Homo sapiens: one gene and its partner. The protein of the gene in region 1 purifies or fractionates together with the protein of each later gene. This does not show direct contact. Each region holds a gene or a part of one and is shown on either strand. Other genes may lie near its edges.

Region 1 (3,822 bases):
ACGCAGAACTCTCTGTATGCATGCCCACCTGCAGACTATACTCCCGTACACAGATCCCGTGCACAGAGACCTGCCCGCAGAGACACACACTCACTGACACACTCACACAGGGTCCTGTGGACAGAGCCTGAACAAAACACACGCACATGCATACACTCCTGTGTGCACAGACCCTTCTGGCACACACAAACACACGCACTCAGCCCACACTCATATACACATGAGGGTCCTGTGAATAGACCAGTCCTGTGTGCACACATACTCACATACACAGACCGGTGCACACAGACCCTTTCTGCACACACAGGGGGGTCCAGTAAACACAGACCTGCCCTGCACACATGCACACACACACACACACTCACTCACAGAAGAGCTGTTGGGAAGCTCTGTGGGAGAGGTACATTGCACAACCTGTAGGTGGGTCTCAGTGCCTGCTCGGGTGAGTGGGTGATGGGTCAGGGCAGAATGGTGGGGGTTCTTACCGATGTACAGCCCCTGCAGGCCCATCTCCGGGACAGCCAACATCCTTGCAGGCCCTGTAGCTGTCAACAGGAACAGACAAGCAGAGTGGGATTTATTTGTCCCTTTGTTCCCTCATCTGAATGCTTATTTATTTTATTTGTTTACTTTTGGCTGGAGTCCTTTGAAGCAAATCCCAGCCATCATGTTGTTTCACCCGTGAACTCTTTAATACATCTCTCCAACAGATAAAGACGTTTTAAACAATGTCATCGCAACACCATTCTCATGTCTAATGAAATTAACAGTAATTCCTTAAATCTCATCTAAAGTCCCACAGTTCCCAGCTTGTGTCAAAAAATGGCTTTACTTTCTTGGAATCAGGATCCTCCTAAATGTTTTCTGGTGCCTGCTCTGTGCCAGGTGCTGGGAGATAGTGACCCAGAGAGACACTGTCCCTGCCCTAGAAACCAACGGTCTGATGGAGGAGATAATCAGGCAAGTGATTTTGAAATGACAAGCGTTGCTGAGTGCTAGGAAGGTCAAAGTTGGATAATGCGGGGTGGGAAGAGGACATGGTAAGTCTGGACAGAGGGCTGGGCTGGGCTTACCCTGCAGGCAGGGCCTGTGCACCCTATTTCAGATTTGATTTTATATGAAGGGCAACAGCAAATCTTGAAAGGTTTGAGGTGGCAGGGTGGGGTGGGGGCATGACTCAATTTGTCTTTTCTTTTTTCTGAGACAGGGTCTCACTCTGTTGCCCAGGCTGGAATGCAGTGGCACGATCTTGGCTCACTGCAACCTCTGCCTCCCAGGTTCAAGCCATTCTCCTACCTCAGCCTCCTCAGTAGCTGGGATTACAGGTGAGTGCCTCCATGCCCAGCTAATTTTTGTATTTTTAGTAGAGACGGGGTTTCGCCGTGTTGGCCAGGCTGTTCTCGAACTCCTGACCTCAGGTGATCCGCCCACCTCGGCCTCTCAAAGTGCTGGGATTACAGGCATGAGCCACCGTGCCTGGCCTTCGTTGTTTGTTTGTTTTGAGATAGGGTGTCACTCTGTCACGAGGAGAACCTACATTTAAAGGCTGAACAGAGGAATATATACCGGCCCAGGAGACTGAGATGCCTCATGGTCTCATGAAGATTGTACCAAGAGATGGGTAAAGCTAGATCCCTGTAAAAGGTCCCCAGATGAGACTGGAAACACTGTTTTAGTGGCCCAAGGGAGGTAAGCTTAGGTGAGGAGTGAGCAAGAGGTGACATGAGCTAGAACTTCTTTTCTTAAGATGGAGTTTCACTCTGTTGCCCAGGCTGGAGTGTAGTGACGCAATCATATTGAGCTAGAATTTCTGAAAAGCTTGGCTGAAATCAGGAATACATGTGAGGGCAGTAGTTGGAGGGCGCTAAAGCTGAAGGGAGGTGAGGAAGAATATTTATTTTCTAAGATGGGAGGGGCTCGATCCTGTCTATGAAGTTCTGGGGCCAGGCTATAGGCAGGATATTTCAAACCATCAACAGCTTTGTTACTCAAAGTGTGGGCTGAGGATCAGCAGCATTGGTATCACCTGGAAGCTTGTTAGAAATGCAGAACCTCAGGCCCCAGCCCAGACCTGCTGAATCAGAACATGTATTTCATATTTATTTATTTATTTATTTATTTATTTATTTATTTATTTATTTATTTTTGAGGCAGAGTCTCACTCTGTCCCCCAGGCTGGAGTGCAGTGGCGTGATCTCAGTTCTCAGCTCACTGCAATCTCCATCTCCTGGGTTCAAGTGATTATCCTGCCTCAGCCTCCCAAGTAGCTGGGGCCACAGGCATGCGCCACCTAATTTGCCTAAAATGCCACCTAAAAATGCCTGGCTAATTTTTGTATTTTTAGTAGAGTCGGGGTTTCACCATATTGGCCAGGCTGGTCTCGAACTCCTGGCCTCAGGTGATCCGCCCGTCTCAGCCTCCCAAAGTGCTGGGATTACAGGCGTAAGCCACCGCGTCTGGCCTATTTTAACAAGATTCCCAGGTGATTCAGGTGCACATTGAAGTTTGAGAAGTGTTGCTCAACAGTGTCTCTCAGCCAGTCTGCAGACCACTGACACTATGTTCTCATTGGTGGGCCTGGCTGCTCCTCTAAACAAAGGAGGAGGCTACGCAGGGCCAATGCATTCCTTCTCTGTCACCAGCGGCCCAATCTGAAAGTTTTGCTATAGAACACAGGCAGACACAGAGCTGGCTCTGGCATGCCCATAGACACATGCACACACCCTTGCTCACACAGTTCACACAAACCAGCCCCATTGTGGACAGACACCTGGACTCCCACACACTCTTGTATGTCCAGGATTCTCCTGCATGGCCAGCACCATGGAGATTTCCAGACACTCTTGCTGTCCTCTGTACCATTGGAGTTGGATGCTCAGGAATCAGAATCAGAAGAAGGATGGGTGCTGGTTGTGGGCATGCATATAGCAGCTGGCTGTTGAGGAGAAAAGGGAAAGCACAGAGAGGGGGAGGGGAGGGTTCTTAGGAGCCAGGGGCAGGAGCCCAGAGCCCAGCTCAGGATGATGGAGTGGGATGCTGAGCTGGGTCCCACCAGCTCATGCGAGCTGATTCTTTCTATCTCTTCCCAATTCTGCATTCAATGACATCACATTGGTAGCTTCAAATCAGTCATGGCTGGGAGTATTTACAAGACAGAAATTGGCAAACACCATAAATCAGGATTTTATCCTTCTTCCAGAGCTGATTGGAAACCATTAACCAGCATACTACTGGATCAAGGTCTCGAGGGAGGAGCTGGCAGCCTTATTTGTATGTTGTTCTGATTCTTCAGCAAACACTTATCGAGATTCTTCATGCCAGGCTCTGTGCTAAGCACTGGGGAACCACTTTGTTGAATGAATGAATGGATTTTCTGGACCGAGGCTATTGTATCTGGAGGAGAAACAACCTAGAACCACCAGAAAAAAAAGACTCTGGGCCGGGCGCCGTGGCTCACTCCTGTAATCCCAGCACTTTCAGAGGCTGAGGCAGGTGGATCACCTGAGGTCAGGAATTCGAGACCAGCCTGGCCAACATGGTGAAACCTTGTCTCTACTAAAAATACAAAAATTAGCCAAGCGTAGTGGCAGACGCCTGTAATTCCAGCTACTCAGGAGGCTGAGGCAGGAGAATCGTTTGAACCTGGGAAGCAGAGGTTGCAGTGAGCCAAGATCGCGCCATTGCACTCCAGCCTGGGCGAGAAGAGTGAGACCCCATCTCAAGAAAAAAAAAAAAAAAAGACTGAGTCCTCGCTCTACACTGGATTCCACATCCAAACCATGGGCCTATACTCTTCCCAGCTATCGGAAGCTTGTCCAGTTA
Region 2 (3,822 bases), on another chromosome or scaffold:
TACAGAAGTTGTTAATGTATTTTTATTCAGATATAAAATGGCTGGCTTGTTCATGTAAAGTATCTTTAAGGTCCTTAACAGGTTTAAAAACAGTTTTTGCCGGGCACAGTGGCTCATGCCTGTAATCCTAGCAGTTTGGGAGGCTGAGGTGGGCGGAACACCTGTTTGAGACCATCTTGTCCAACATGGCAAAACCCCGTCTCTACTAAAAACACAATAATTAGCCGGGCATGGTGGTGCATGCCTGTAATCCCAGCTACTCAAAAGGCTGAGCCACAAGAATCGCTTGAACCCAGGAGGCGGAGGTTGCAGTGAGCCAAGATCCTACTGCTGTCCATTCCAGCCTGGGTGACAGAACAAGACCTTGTCCGCCCACCTTCCACTCCCCCACCAAAATAAAACAAAAAATAAAAACACACTTAGCTGGGCATGGTGGTGTGAACCTGTAGTCCCAGCTACTTGGGAGGCTGAAGTGGGAGGCTTTCCTGAGCACAGGAGGCCGAGGCTGCAGTGAGCCACTGTACTCCAGCCTGAGTGACAGTGAGACGTTGTCTCAAAAAAAAAAGTTACCTACGTTTTACTCCTTTCTCTAAGTTTAAATCCCCCAAGAGATTAAAATAATTTCAATGACAATCTGAGAATTTCTGAGGTTAAGGAGAGGCTGCCCTTTGAAAAGGTGGAGGTGAGAGATTTTATAACTGAGATAATTTGTAAATAAGGGTATAACTGATCTTACAGGAGATGTGAATATAAGGCTATCTGTGTAGTTTATATGGGTCAATATTTTGTATTTAATTTCTCTATACACTACTAGAGATAACATATATTTGTTTTAATCCAGAAGAAGCAAATATTCTGAAGTCTTTTTTCTTTCCATTTTTTACCAGTAGACTATTAAACGAAGATAAAGTCATTATTAGAGCTATATTGTCATCATATTTTCAGAACAGTTGTTTCCTCAGTTATTCATTTAGTCTGGGTTGGACTTCCCAAGGGGGAAACCAATATCCCAAGAGTCTGGCACAGTTAAGTAGTTCCAGATGGCTTGCAGTAATAATGAGGGTGGACACTTTAAAAATGGCTTGGAAAAGAAAATCGCTGGTTATAGACACTAATAATTCAGTTACATTGAATTGTGTGAATCATTAATGACTTTGGATTAGGTCAGAAAATCATTAAACTTTATCTAATTTACAAATATATAAATGGAAAAATATATGGATTCATGTTATATAATACCAATTTTTAAGTTGCACATTTTTTTCTCATTCAAAAATAATAAACGTTCACATTTATTAAATAAAGAAGTGGAGAACATTCACATAAGCAAAAAGAGGAAAAATACCATTCATTGTTAATCATGCTTTCCAGGTTTTTCTCCTGCTTCTCAGGCTATCCCACTTCTTCTCTGTGAGCTTTTAATATTCTGCCTACCCCTTTAATATTGGTGTTCTGTCCTTGACCTTCTTTTGTCTGGTTGACTTATTTGTCCCTAGTCAATATCAATCTGTCACATGACTTCAGTTATTGTAGTTATGCTAAAGGCTCCCAACTCTATCTCCATCCTTTCTTTGACTGCTAGAACAGCTTTACCTAGATGTCAAAATTTCCTCAGATTAAACTGTCTAAAACAGAATTCAGTCCTCCAACCCTCTTTACGGCCCCCAAAACAAACAAAACCAAAACCTGATACTCTTTCTGGTGGGTCCATCCCTGACTTCTCCTTTCCCTGACTTCTCCTTTCACCTCTCACATTCAGTCACATCTTGTTAATTCTACCTCGTAAATACCTCTTAAATATGTCTTTCTTCATTCCCACTGTCATTGTCATCTCTTGCCAGTCTTACCCTTCTGCAATATATTTTCCCCAGTGTAGCCAAAATGTTTAATTGTCACACTGCTTAAACATTTTTACCCTTTACCCAGAGTTAGCCAAACTCTAAGGTTAAGGGCACAGTCTTCTACTCTGCCAAGTCTGCTCAAGACTTCTGATCCTATTGTAAGGGGTTAGGGTGCAACTACAAATTTCAAATGAAGATGCTATGCAAAACCTCACTTCTAACATCAACTGCAAGTTTGGGGGTTTCCCCAAACCACCCTCAGATTCAGTAATGCACTAGAAAAACTCATAGAACTCACTGAAAGCTATTATACTTAGAGATACAGTTCATTACAAAGACAAGCTACAAATTAGTCAAAGGAAGAGAGATGCCTAGGGTATAGTCTAAGAGGGTTGCAGATATGAAACTTCCATTGTTCTCAGGGAATATACCTTCCATACCCTCCCAGCATGAATGTGTGGATGTATGGAAATACACACAAGGTATTGCCCACCCAAGAAGTTCACCTAAACTTTAGTGTGTCTGGAGTTTGTGTTTTGTTTTTTAAAGAGATGGGGTCTCACTATATTCCCTACGCTGGATTCAAACTCCTGGCTCAAATGATCTTCTTACCTCAGCAGAGTTTTCATTGAGATTTATTGATTGTTTGCATGGTTGAACTCAGTTTCCAGTCTCCCCTCTCCAGAGGTTAGGCTGATACTATGTGGTTCAAGGGACCCATCATGAATAGTAAGAATACTCATATTACTCCAGAAATTCCAGGGGCTTAGAGGTTACCTCCCAGGAGCTGGGGGCAACATCTGGACCTCTCTTTGGACAAGTTTTTTACTCCACATCCTTCATCACCTATCTCTCTTTTGCCCTCTAGATAAAATCCAAAGGTAAGGGCTTATAATCTTACTTCATTAGTTTTATTTCTGGAATCACTATCCACCCACTTCATCCCAGCTCTACCCCTCCAGAAACTACACTTCAGCTATATTAAACTAATGTATTTCTTTGAAGGTATTGTGTTATCTTTTGCCTCTGCACCTTTGCACATAGTATATTTTTCCCTCTGCTTGGAATACTATGTTCCCCCAATAGCCACTCCCAACACAATCCAATTTCTTACCCGTTTTTTAGTTCTCTGTTTAACACCTCTTCCTTGAGGAAGCCTTTGCTTACCGTCCTCACACTCATCATGAGTTAGGGGTCCCTTCTACGTTCCTTTCCATAATACCCAATGCCATTCCTCTTGTAAGTACTTGGTTTAATTTATTATTTTTTGTCAGCAAATATTTATATCTCCGTCACTAGACCAGAGGTCTCCAAAGTCAATTGCACCTAAAATACTTCATTTCGGCAAAGGAAGAAAACATTATCATCTGTTTATTTGTGTATAACATACGAAATTAAGTGCTATAAATATTTGACATGTTTATTGAGATTGGCAACTTGTTCTGTATGACGACTGATTTCATGTGAAGCATGGTAAGTGTGGTATTCTGAGGGAGTGCAAATTCCACAGCTTATGGGGGTTGACCGTGGCATCCTTTCTCCAATTTTTAGGCCATTACAAACTATTACAGTTTATCTGTGCCTGAGTAAATAGATTTATGGATTATATTTCCTGGTTTTAACAAAATTAGCCCTCATGAAATGGAAAATTGGCTTTAAAAGTTCCTGTGAAGATGGCTGGGCTTGGTGGCTCATTCCTGTAATCCCAACACTTTGGGAGGCTGAGGCAGGCAGATTGCTTGAGTCTTGGAGTTCGAGACCAGACTGGGCAACATGGCAAGGCCCCGTCTCTACAAAACTTAGTTCAGCTACTCAGGAGGCTGAGATGGGAGGACTGCTTGAGCCCAGGAGGTTGAGGTTGCAGTGAACCATGATCATGTCACTGCACTCCAGCCTGGGTAACAGAGTGAGACCTTGTTTCAAAAAAAAAAAGTTTCTATGACAAAATCATGAGTTAAACATAATATTGATAATGCAAGTG

The links.
Region 2: the proteins of HSPA12B (region 1) and PPM1E purify together in Homo sapiens (affinity purification with mass spectrometry; one large-scale study listed by BioGRID and IntAct). This does not show direct contact.

Annotation. Positions count from the first base shown.
Region 1 is NC_000020.11:3,735,381-3,739,202, reverse strand, and holds part of HSPA12B (heat shock 70 kDa protein 12B), read right to left. Parts: intron 2,936-3,822; exon of another isoform or gene 2,863-2,935; coding exon of another isoform or gene 2,860-2,862; intron 2,813-2,859; exon of another isoform or gene 2,771-2,812; intron 546-2,770; coding exon of another isoform or gene 529-545; coding exon 486-528; intron 1-485.
Region 2 is NC_000017.11:58,758,701-58,762,522, forward strand, and holds part of PPM1E (protein phosphatase 1E), read left to right. Parts: intron 1-3,822. UniProt on the Homo sapiens protein: Protein phosphatase that inactivates multifunctional CaM kinases such as CAMK4 and CAMK2. Dephosphorylates and inactivates PAK. May play a role in the inhibition of actin fiber stress breakdown and in morphological changes driven by TNK2/CDC42.